Regions from separate parts of the Homo sapiens genome. Here region 2 is linked to region 1. Evidence: fine-mapped expression QTL. A gene starts in region 1. The other region holds a variant in brackets. All regions are shown on one strand. Distances are between the middles of the regions.

Region 1 (5,385 bases):
CCTCCCAAAGTGCTGGGATTAAAGGCGTGAGCCACTGCACCCGGCCGGGGTGTCTTTTTAAATAAGACACGAATGACAAGAAACTGGCCAAGAAAAGATTTGGGAAAGGCAGTCTATGTAAAGCAGTGTTTTTCAAGCTAAGGCCCTGACCTACTGCAGTGGACACACGAAATCCATTTAGTGAGCTGGGACCACAATTGAAGAAACTATTAGGATACATCACATGAAGGAAAACTTTTGTTTCAGTTATACATATATTTATACACATGTGACCTGTGTATATTCTCATACATATGTATGCATGCATGCCTAAATGAGTCACAATGTGAAGTGTATTTCTTACTACAGTGAGGTCAAAAAATGTTTGAAAGCCACTGAGATAGAAGGACCAGCCACTTTGAACGCCTTAGAGGCAAAAAGAGCTTTGTGAGTTGTAAGAGGAAAAAGAAGACCAGCATGGCTGAAGCGAGCCCTGGGGAGGAGTGTTATGAAAGAAGGTAGGAAATGTATATAATTTTTCCCACATAGAACCCTCCAGTCAAACATCTTAAATCTGGACTGCCACCTGTTTTTGTCATGGTTCATCATTTAAGAGATGACATGTAAGAATCATCTCCCTGCTTTTATGTCACTTTGTAAACTGTCACTGAGAAGTTAGTAGTTATACTGACGTGATTGAAAATAACCTCTAAACTAAGAATGTATCTTATATTGAGAACGGATTGTTCGTATAATTAAAAAATGAACAAGAAAACCAGGCTCATAGAACTTTGGCGGAGTCCTCTGGTTCATTTCAGGCCCTTCTTACGAGGCAAAAATTTCATGTTAGTTGGTAATTAATTTTGCAAATCTCTTGGCTATAAATACAAAAGGAAATCGTATAAAAGAAACCACTTAGGTCAAATGTAGAGGAAAAAAATGCTGGGACTGTAGATGTGGCTCTTCCATTAACTCCCTAAGTGGCCCTCACGACTTATTCCACTGGTTTGTGCCCTGGAAATCCTTACATGTAAAAAAAAAAAGGAGGTGGAGCAGGTGTTCAGTAAGGTCCCTTCATACTGTAAAATTCTATGATCTTAAGTTATTTACGATCATTTACTATTTTAAACGTTGCGAAAATTAACCTGGTATTTTACCAGACCTTTGTAAAAAGAGGAAGTTACATGACATACAATGAAGATAACGTCCTTAACTTTACGGTAGATGACAGTGGTTGAACAACTAGAAGAGAAAGTCAAAGTTATCTCGGGGAGTTTATATTGTACTTAGATTGAGCTGCACTTTGGAACCGTGTGGCCTTTTCACATGAGATCAGTGTCTTGATAAATACAAACTTCCTGAAAAGATGGGTTAAACCTCAAAGCCTGTGTAACTACAGCTTGACAAAGACTCTCGAGGAAAGGTAAACGGAAAGTGAGTTGGCAACACAACTCACCTACAAGTTCTCCAATCATGAAAAGCAAGTACAGAACGGCAGCAATGGTCAACCTGGCTTTCACCTTTCTCTGCTTCAGTATCTCTCTCTGTTTGCTGCAGTTGTCACAGGAGTCCACCTTCAAACTCAGCTGACTGTTGGTCAAAGGTAAGTCTTGGTCCAGTAAGGAATCATCGTCGGCCTGGAGGGTCGGGTGCGCCCCGTTAACAGGCCTTTCCGGGGCTTCGGAACCGTCATCGGCCACCACAACTCGAAGTTTGTTGAACCGAGAAAGCCCCTCGTCCCCCGCCTCATCCGAGAAGTCAAAGGCGCTGGTGTCATTTAAAAACAGCGGCGCATCATCCTTCCTTAGCATAGATTTGAGGCGCTTCCACGCGCCAGAGCCGGCCATGGCAGAGGCTGAGCGGCCGCGGTGCGGAACGGCTTGGGGGAGGCGGACGGCCGGCGGCGCCTACTTCACCGGAGCGCCAGTTCTCGAGGGCAGTGCCGCGCGTCCCTCCCCATCCTGTGGAAAACGAAACACGTTATAAATTAAAGGCGCCCAACCCTGTCCTCAAGTTCCGAAGCCGCTGGCGGCGGGTCGCAGGGCCGACCCCGACGCTCCGCCGGGGCTCCGCGAGGGGGCGGCACATCTATTTAATACCTGGGGCGCTGCCGCGGGGCCGCAACTCATCTCCCCGCCCCCGGCCGGCTCAGCGAGGCGGGCTCGCGCTGCTCCACCCGCGGCCGCAGGAGAGTGGGGTCGTGCTCGCGCCCGCCGCGCCCGCTGCTGGAGGCCGGCTCCCCAGGTCTGACAGGTTCGGGGCCGGACGCCCACAGCCACCGCCTCTCCCCGCCCTGCGCGAGGCCACGCGCGTGCGCCGGGCGAGGCGCGCGAGGGAGGGGTCGGCGCGAGGACACGCAGGCCTGGCGCGCAGGGCTGGGGCGCCCGCGATGGGCGGGGGCGCGCGGCGCGCCCCGCCTCTCGCCCCGAGGCTGGATTGGGGGCCACTGCGCCGCCTCCGCCCAGGGGTCACTCACTGGCCAACTGAGGGGACTTTGGGCGGCCTCTTCCACCTTCCCAGGCTGGGAGGCAAGTGCGGTCGGAGGGTCACGCCGGGGGCTGGGCGTTGCTGCTAGGAGTTCCCTCCACCGAAAGTGTGTCTCAGGAATCTCGGGTCGGGATCTGGGTTGCGGGTGCTCGGCAGAAGACAAACCCAGCACTTTTCTTGCTAACTGAAAAGGCAAGCAGCTTTTCTCTCCTCGAATTGCTTGTCTCTGGCAAATTGGCAACATTTGCTGCAGTCAACTGGAGAGGGCAAGGCTGTCGTCGTCAGCAGTTCTGTGTCCTACTGTTTTTCAGCAAATATGTATTGTCCTCTTTGTGCTCTCTGCCGTGTTCCTTTTGCCTCCAAGGTATTTACGATATGGACTAAACTCAAGCATAGAAAATCTAGTACAGGCATACCTTGGAGATACTGCGAATTTGGTTCCAGACCACCGCAATATGACAAAGTGAGGTCTCACAAATGTTTCATGTCCCAGTGCAAATACAATCATGTTTATAATGTAGTCTATTAAGCGTGTAATAGCGTTATGTCTAAAACAATGTGCATACCTTAATTTAAAATATTGGGAGAGAGGAAGGAAAAAGTATATATACATTTGTTAATTGCTCTGAGGAAGGAGGGTCGCATGAGCCCAGAGGTTCGAGATTACAGTGAGCTATGATTGTGCCTCCGCACCCCTGCCTGGCGACAGAGTGAGACCTTGTCTCTAAAAATAAACAAGTAAATAAAATACATGACTGCTAAAAAAATGCTATCAGCTGGGCGTGGTGGCTCACGCCTGTAATACCGGCCCTTTGGGAAGCCGAGGCGGGCGGATCACCTGAGATGGGGAGTTCAAGACCAGCCTGACCAAAATGGAGAAACCCTGTCTCTACTAAAAATACAAAATTAGCTGGGCATGGTGGCGCATGCCTGTAATCCCAGCTACTAGGGAGGCTGAGGCAGGAGAATCGCTTGAACCCGGGTGGCGAAGGTTGTGGTGAGCCGAGATCACGCCATTACACTCCAGCCTGGGCAAGAAGAGCAAAACTCGGTCTCAAAAAAAAAAAAAGCTATCAATCATCTAGGCCTTTAGCAAGTCATATTCTTTGCTAGTTGGAGGGTCTTTGCTCCTTGTTAATGGCTGCTGACTGATCTGGATGGTGGCTGCTGAAGGTTGGGGTGGCTGTGGCAATTCCTTAAAATAAGACAACAATGACATTTGCTATATTGATTGACTTGTTTTCATGAAAGAGTTCTTGATGGCGTGTGATGCTGGTTGATAATATTTTACCCACAGTGGACCTTTCAAAATTGGAGTCAATCCAGTTTTCTCAAACCCTGCCTCTGCTTTATCAACTAAGTTTATGGAATATTCAAATCCTTTGTTGCCATTTCAACAGTGTTCACAGCATCTTCACAAGGAGTAGATTCTATCTCAAGAAACCACTCTCTCTGCTTATCTATAAGAAGCAACTCCTCATCTGTTCAAATTTTATGAGATTGCAGCAATTCAGTCACATCTTCAGGTTCCACTTCTAGTTCTCTTGCTATTTCCACCACATCTACAGTTACTTCCTCCATTGAAGTCTTGAATCCCTCAAAATCATCCATTAGGGTTAGAATCCACTTCTTCCAAAATCCTGTTAATATTGATATTTTGACCTCCCATGAATCACGAATGTTCTTAATGGCATCTGGAATGCTGAATCCTCTCCAGAAGTTTTTCAATTTACTTTACCTAGGTCCATCAGAGGAATCAATGGCAGCTATAGCCTTATGAAAGGTATTTCTTCTTTTTTATTCATTTATTTTTATTTTTAGATGGTGTTTCACTCTTGTTGCCCAGGCTGGAGTGCAATGGCGCGATATCGGCTCACCGTAACCTCTGCCTCCCGATTTCAAACTATTCTCCTCCCTCAGCCTCCCAAGTAGCTGGGATTACAGGCATGTGCCACCACGCCTGGCTAATTTCGTATCTTTAGTAGAGATGGGGTTTCACCATGTTGGCCAGACTAGTCTCGAACTCCCGACCTCAGGTGATCCACCTGGGTCGACCTTCCAAAATGCTGGGATTACAGGCATGAGCCACCGCGCCCGGCCAGTCACCCAGGTTTTGTTCCATTTATAGAGCACAGGTAGAGTAGATTTAGAATAATTCCTACGGGCCCTAGAATTTTCGGAATGGTAAATGAGCATTGGCCTTAACTTAAAGCTACGGGCTGCATTAGCCTCTAACAAGAGAGTAAGATTGTCCTTTGAAGCTTTGAAGCCAGGCATCAACTTCTGTCTAACTATGAAAGCCCTAGGTGGAATCTTCCAATAGAAGGCTGTTTCCCCTGTATTGAAAATCTGTTGTTTATTGTAGTCACCTTTAATGATCTTAGCTACACCTTGTGGACAACTTGTTGCAGTTTCTCCATCAGCATTTGCTGCTGCTTCTTGCACTTTTATGTTATGGAGATTGCTTTTTTCCTTAAATCTCATGAACCGACCTCTGCTAGCTTCAAACTTTTCTTTTTTGTTAAAAAAATTATTTAATTTATTTATTTTTAAATAGAGACAGGGTCTCACTATGTTGCCCAGGCTGGTCTGGGTATTTCTAATTTCCTTCAAGAACCTTCCCATTTCCCAGAGTCAAGTGATAAAAGTTTAATACAAACAAACAAACAAACCCAAACAATAAAAAAGAACTTTTCATTTGCATTCACAACCTGGGTAAGAAAAGGCATAGTGCAGGGCATGGTGGCTCACGCCTGTAATCCCAACACTTTGGAAGCCTGAGGCAGGCGGATCACCTGAGGTCAGGAGTTCGACACCAGCCTGGTCAACATGGTGGACCTCTACCATAGTAGAGACAACCCTGTCTCTACTAAAAATACAAAAATTAGCTGGGTGTGGTGGCATGTGCCGAGTAGCTCC
Region 2 (5,385 bases), 46 kb before region 1:
ATAAGTGTTAGCAATTATTTCCCTGGTTAACCAAAAGCTGCCTATAGTTTGGTATGGCTGACACATGGGAGGTAGGCTAGTGGTGGTGGGAAAGGCTGGAACTGCGGGGTGACTAGGTAAGCAGTGACCAGATCAGGACTTTGCATGTCATTACCAAGAGGATGGACTTTAATCCTCCTGGTCACAATTTCTGAAGCCATTCCTAATGGGAGACAAGTGTGATCTTCTATCTACAGGAGTGAGGCTATGGCCCAAGAAGCCCTCCAAAAACATAACATTGTTTTATTTCCTGTTTAACTTAAAAAAAAAAAACCCACTGCTATTGTGTGTTCTATTTCATAGCATGTTCAGTGGCAGGCAGATGGTCTTCATAGGTCAATCCTTGGTTGAATAATTGTAAAATGGATGACATTTGGAATAGTCTCAATCTACTTCAGAAAAAACCATTTCCACCGGGTGCGGTGGCTTATGCTTGTAATCCTAAGCACTTTGGGAGGCCAAGACGAGTGGATTGCTTGAGCCCAGAAGTTCAAGACCGGCTTGGCCAATGTGGTGAAACCCTATTTCTACTAAAAATACAAAAATTAGTTGGGCATGATGGTACATGCCTATAATCCCAGCTACTCAGGAGGCTGAGGCACAAGAATCTCTTGAACCTGGGAGGATGAGGCTGTAGTGAGCCAAGATCACACCACTGCAGCCTAGGTGACAGAGTGACACCTTGCCTAAAGAAAACTAAAAAAAAAAAAAAAAAAAGAAAAAAAGAAAAAGAAAAAAACATTTCCAACCACTTGAACCTTTTTTTTTTTTTTTGAGACAGAGTCTCACTGTCACCCTGTCGCCCAGGCTGGAATGTAGTGGTGTGATCTCGGCTCACTACAACCTCCACCCGCCTGGGTTCAAGCGATTGTCCTGCCTCAGCCTCCTGAGTAGCTGGGATTACAGGTGCATGCCACCATGCCCAGATTATTTTTTTGTATTTTTAATACAGACGGGGTTTTGCCATGCCATGTTGGCCAGGCTGGTCTCAAACTCCTGACCTCAGGTGATCCGCCTGCCTCGGCCTCTCAAAGTGCTGAGATTACAGGTGTGAGCCACCGCACTCAGCCTGAACCAACTTTCTGAGATGTCAAAATTTCAATATCATGGTATCTTAAAGATGAGAAACATTTCTTTTTCTTTTTTTGAGACAGGATCTCACTCTGTCACCAAGGCTGGAGTGCAGCAGCAGAATTTCAGCTCACTGCAACCTCGACTTGCTGGGTTCAAGGGATCTCCCAAGTAGCTGGGACTACAGGTGCACACCATCATGCCTGGCTAATTTTTTGTAGGGATGGGGTTTTACCATGCTGCCCAGGCTGGTCTTGAACTTCTGAGTTCAAGCGATCCTCCCTCCTGAGCCTCCTAAAGTGCTGGGATTACAGGTATGAGCCACCACGCCTAGATCAGAAACACTTCTAAAACCAAATACACGTCAATGACTAATACACTAAATTATATAACACTTTGTTTCAAGGTTTAAAAAATATCCTGGACTTTGGAAAATATTCTTATATAAAGAAGCAAAAAGAGGATGGAATAGACTTGTGCTAACACTGAAACTCCAGTCAAGTTGTAAACTGAAAAAGAACGTGTTGAAACAAGGAATTGCCCCATAGCCTTCACAGGTGAGTATGATAGATTAATGAATGGAAGTCCAGGAAACATTTCTTACCTTCACTTCAGTCCTTCATGCCCTGACTGAAGTCCAACATTCACTGTGATCACTGTTCAAAGGTAAATGCTGCAGTAACCATTTAAGCTGTTAGCAGGTTTCCTCTCGAAAAGATGTGGGGTCAAATCTTCAAATGCTAGGAGAGTCAAGGGAGCAGAGACGGTCTGTCTTGCTTCAGGGCTAGCCTTGCTTTCATGAGGTCTCTAAAATTTTCCTACTGTAAAAAATCCTACTCTCTTACCAAGAAATAGCCCAGTATATTTTGGAGAAAAACCAATCCATACACATTTTTCCCATAGCATCAGCTTTTTGTTGAAGTGACAAAAGTGTTAAAACAAACAAACAAACACCAACTAACCACAAACCAATGTGCAGAAACTGGCAAGTGAAACACAGACAACAGGAATTTGAAAATCAAACCAGAAAAAAAAAATTTAAGTCCAGGAGACATGGAAGCAATTTGATAACTCACACAGTATCCTCTTCATGTTTATAGGGTAAGACCCATGGGCCAAACTTTAATTTGTAGTGCTCTGTAAAAGTTACATGAGAGCCTGTTACACCAGAATGCTGCTTGAAAATGTTATTTTTGGTGATAACATTGGATTTTAAAACCTCCTATCTTAAACACATGACTCATGTAGAGATTATATTTTGTTATAAGGCTTCATACTTTCTATTTGTGCCTAGTCTATTTCATAGCTTATAGCAATTATTATGGGACCACAGTTGAAGTCGAAATATATCCAAAAAATATTATTTATGAATATACTAAAGTTTAGCATAATCAAGAGCTTGTAAGACTGTTACCCCAAATTAGTATTTAACATCTGACATGGATCAAAAAAAATGACACATCAAAATAGAATAGCTAGGTAGACAATCAAATAATAAGTAACATCTCAATCTTTACTAGTATATATAATACATATATATAATATATATAATACATATATAATATATATAATACATATATATTATATAATACATATATATAATATATATAATACATATATATAATATAAATACATATATAATATATATAATACATATATATAATATATATAATACATATATATAATATATATATAATA[CAT/C]ATATATAATATATATATAATACATATATATAATATATATATAATACATATATATGTATTTTTTTTTAAACAGGATCTCACTCTGTTGCAGTGTCACTGGAGTGCAGTGGTGCAGTCTTGGCTTCCTGCACCATCTGCCTTCCAGAATCAAGCAATTATCCAGCTTCAGCCTCCCGAGTAGCTGGGACCACAGACGTGCCACCATGCCTGGCTTATTTTTTTATTTTTTGTAGAGATGGGGTTTCACCATTGTTGCCCAGGCTGGGCTCAACTCCTGAGCTCAAAGTGATCCATCTGCCTCAGCCTCCCAAAGTGCTGGAATTACAGGCTCAGTCTATACTAGTATATTTACAACTATATTTTATTACAATATTTATTAAATATTGTTGTCTTTTGCTAGGAAACTTAAAAACCTTAAAGAACATCATTTGTGAGCTCCCAATTGGCACAAATTACATAAGGTACTCTACACATATTTTTATTTTCTTAACTTTTTGTTATAACAAGTGAAAAATCTAAAAATCAACTGAATAAGCTTTTATGTTGAAAAGTATACTTAAATGATTCTGGTGATCATGGTGTTCTAGTAAGAAAAATGCTTTGCTAGTGATGTGACAGCGTACGGCATATGAATAATATTTGAAATCTTGCTACTCTTTTCTTATATTCTGCCCCAAACCCAAAGGAAGTTTAAAATGAGAAAAAAGGTAAAGGTATGAAAGAACCTTTGGTGACTCAGGTGGCTTCAGACTTACCAGTCACAAAAACTTGCAAGCAGGTTCTAGGAGACTTCACTGCATCCATATATGCTGTTAATAGTGTTTTTTTTTTTTTTTGAGACGGAGTCTCACTCTGTTGCCCAGGCTAGAGTGCAGTGGTGTGATCTCGGCTCGGCTCGCTGCAACCTCCACCTCCTGGGTTCAAGTAATTCTTCCACTTCAGCCTTACGAGTAGCTGGGACTATAGGCACCTGCCACCATGCCAAGCTAATTTTTGTATTTTTAGTAGAGACGGGGTTTCACCATGTTGGCCAGGCTGGTCTCAAACTCCTGACCTCAAGTGCCCACTCCAGCCTCCCAAAGTGCTGGGATTACAGGCATGAGCCACCGCACCCGGCTTGTTATAGTCTTAAAACACTCTACACCAGGGGTTAGTAAACGTTTCCTATAAAGGGCCAGATAGTAAATATTTTATGTCACTACGCAACTCTCCACGGTAGCATGGAAGCAGCCATAGACAATACGTAACTGAATGAGTGTGGTGTGTTCCGGTAACGCTTTATAGACACAGAAATTCACTTAAAGTCCATATAATTTTCACATGCCATGAAATATTTACTGTTTTTTTTTGGGGGGGGATGGGGACAGGGTCTCACTGTCACTCAGGCTAGAGAGCAGTGGCACCATCACGGCTCAGTGTAGCCTAGACCTCCTGAGCTCAAGTGATCCTCCTATCTCTCAGCCTCCTGAGTAGCTGGGATCACAGGCATGTGCCACTATGCCCAGTTAATTTTTGTATTTTTTGTAGAGATGAGGTTTCACCATGTTGCCAAGGCTGGTCTTGAACTCCTGGGTTCAAGCAATCCAGCTGCCTTGGCCTCCTGAAATGTTAGGATTACAGGCGTGAGCCACTGCACCCAGTGATTTAATAGATGTAAAAATCATTCTTAGTTCTTGGGGCAAATAAAACAGGCTTGCAGGCCAGATTTGGCCTGGGAGGTATAGTGTAGACTGGTCCACACGATTGGAGAGTCAGCAGGCTCTTACTCTCAGACTTCCTGGTGGTCCTCACCAGTCTATTTTACAGTGGCTTCTTTATTTCCTTTCTGCCACTGTTGATGGGACTGTAGCGTCACTGCATGTGACTGATACCAAAAGAGAAAGGTTCTTTTAATTAATCTTTCCATACTATCCAGAAGATTTTTTTCAGTTTTATTTCTTAAACATATAAGAGGGCATTATAAAATGACATTATAATTATAAAAGATTTTCTTTTAAGAACAATGTTTTTAGGCCTACTAATATTACTTAATAAAAAGAGCAGATATTTAAGAGACTGTACATTTTTATTTAATAAACCACATGGCAAAACAATACTTTAATAAGTGTATAGGAAATTACAATGTGAAAGTTGCAAATACAGCACATATATATATATATATATATACTTTGATCTTAATTAACATGGACAAACCCCAGCTTCAAAATCTTTCTAAAATCAATCATATGCAAAATACCTGGTTTCTGAAAGGGCATATGATAAAGTATATACAATTTCTTAAACTGTGATATGGCTTATTTAATAACATGTATTTATTGAGAGAAGCATAAACTTTCCAAATATACAGTATCTTCCAGGTAGAAAGATGACATACTGGCACATTTCAATTTTGTGTTGCAGTTATCTGAGAATATACTAAATTGCACTATTTAAGTGGACACTGTCATAGATTTAACTGGGAAAGTCTCCATAAATGTTTTCCAATCTTATCAAAAAGCAAATTGGTCCTCAATGATTGGAACAGCAGGTTAAACCCTTTACAAGTCAGAATTCAGTGACTGGCAGGCCTGAGTGC

Direction of the effects. Alleles are on the strand shown, and positions count from the first base shown. SD is a standard deviation of normalised expression in the study named.
With allele C in place of CAT in region 2, the expression in monocytes after Pam3CSK4 of the gene that starts at base 2,227 in region 1 is higher (large effect, 0.93 SD a copy in Quach 2016).

What was found. PIP is the estimated chance that this variant, and not a neighbour inherited with it, causes the effect.
Region 2: its variant is the best candidate, but not a certain one, in a credible set for the expression of SLC30A4 in monocytes after Pam3CSK4 (Quach 2016, PIP 0.70).

Annotation. Positions count from the first base shown.
Region 1 is chr15:45,520,529-45,525,913 of GRCh38, forward strand. SLC30A4 (solute carrier family 30 member 4) reads right to left here and starts at 2,227. Exons shown (of 8, transcript NM_013309.6): 1 at 2,079-2,227; 2 at 1,436-1,940. The coding sequence starts at 1,826. It also overlaps the pseudogene HMGN2P46. RefSeq lists a silencer at 1,930-2,419.
Region 2 is chr15:45,474,886-45,480,270 of GRCh38, forward strand. SLC30A4-AS1 (SLC30A4 antisense RNA 1) reads left to right here. Exons shown (of 4, transcript XR_007064611.1): 2 at 1,194-1,424; 3 at 1,517-1,667. SLC30A4 (solute carrier family 30 member 4) reads right to left here. Exons shown (of 8, transcript NM_013309.6): 8 at 4,721-5,385. Among named protein-coding and RNA genes, the nearest start is that of SLC30A4-AS1, 29 kb to the left of the region's middle. The variant CAT/C (reference allele first, on the strand shown) is at 2,809.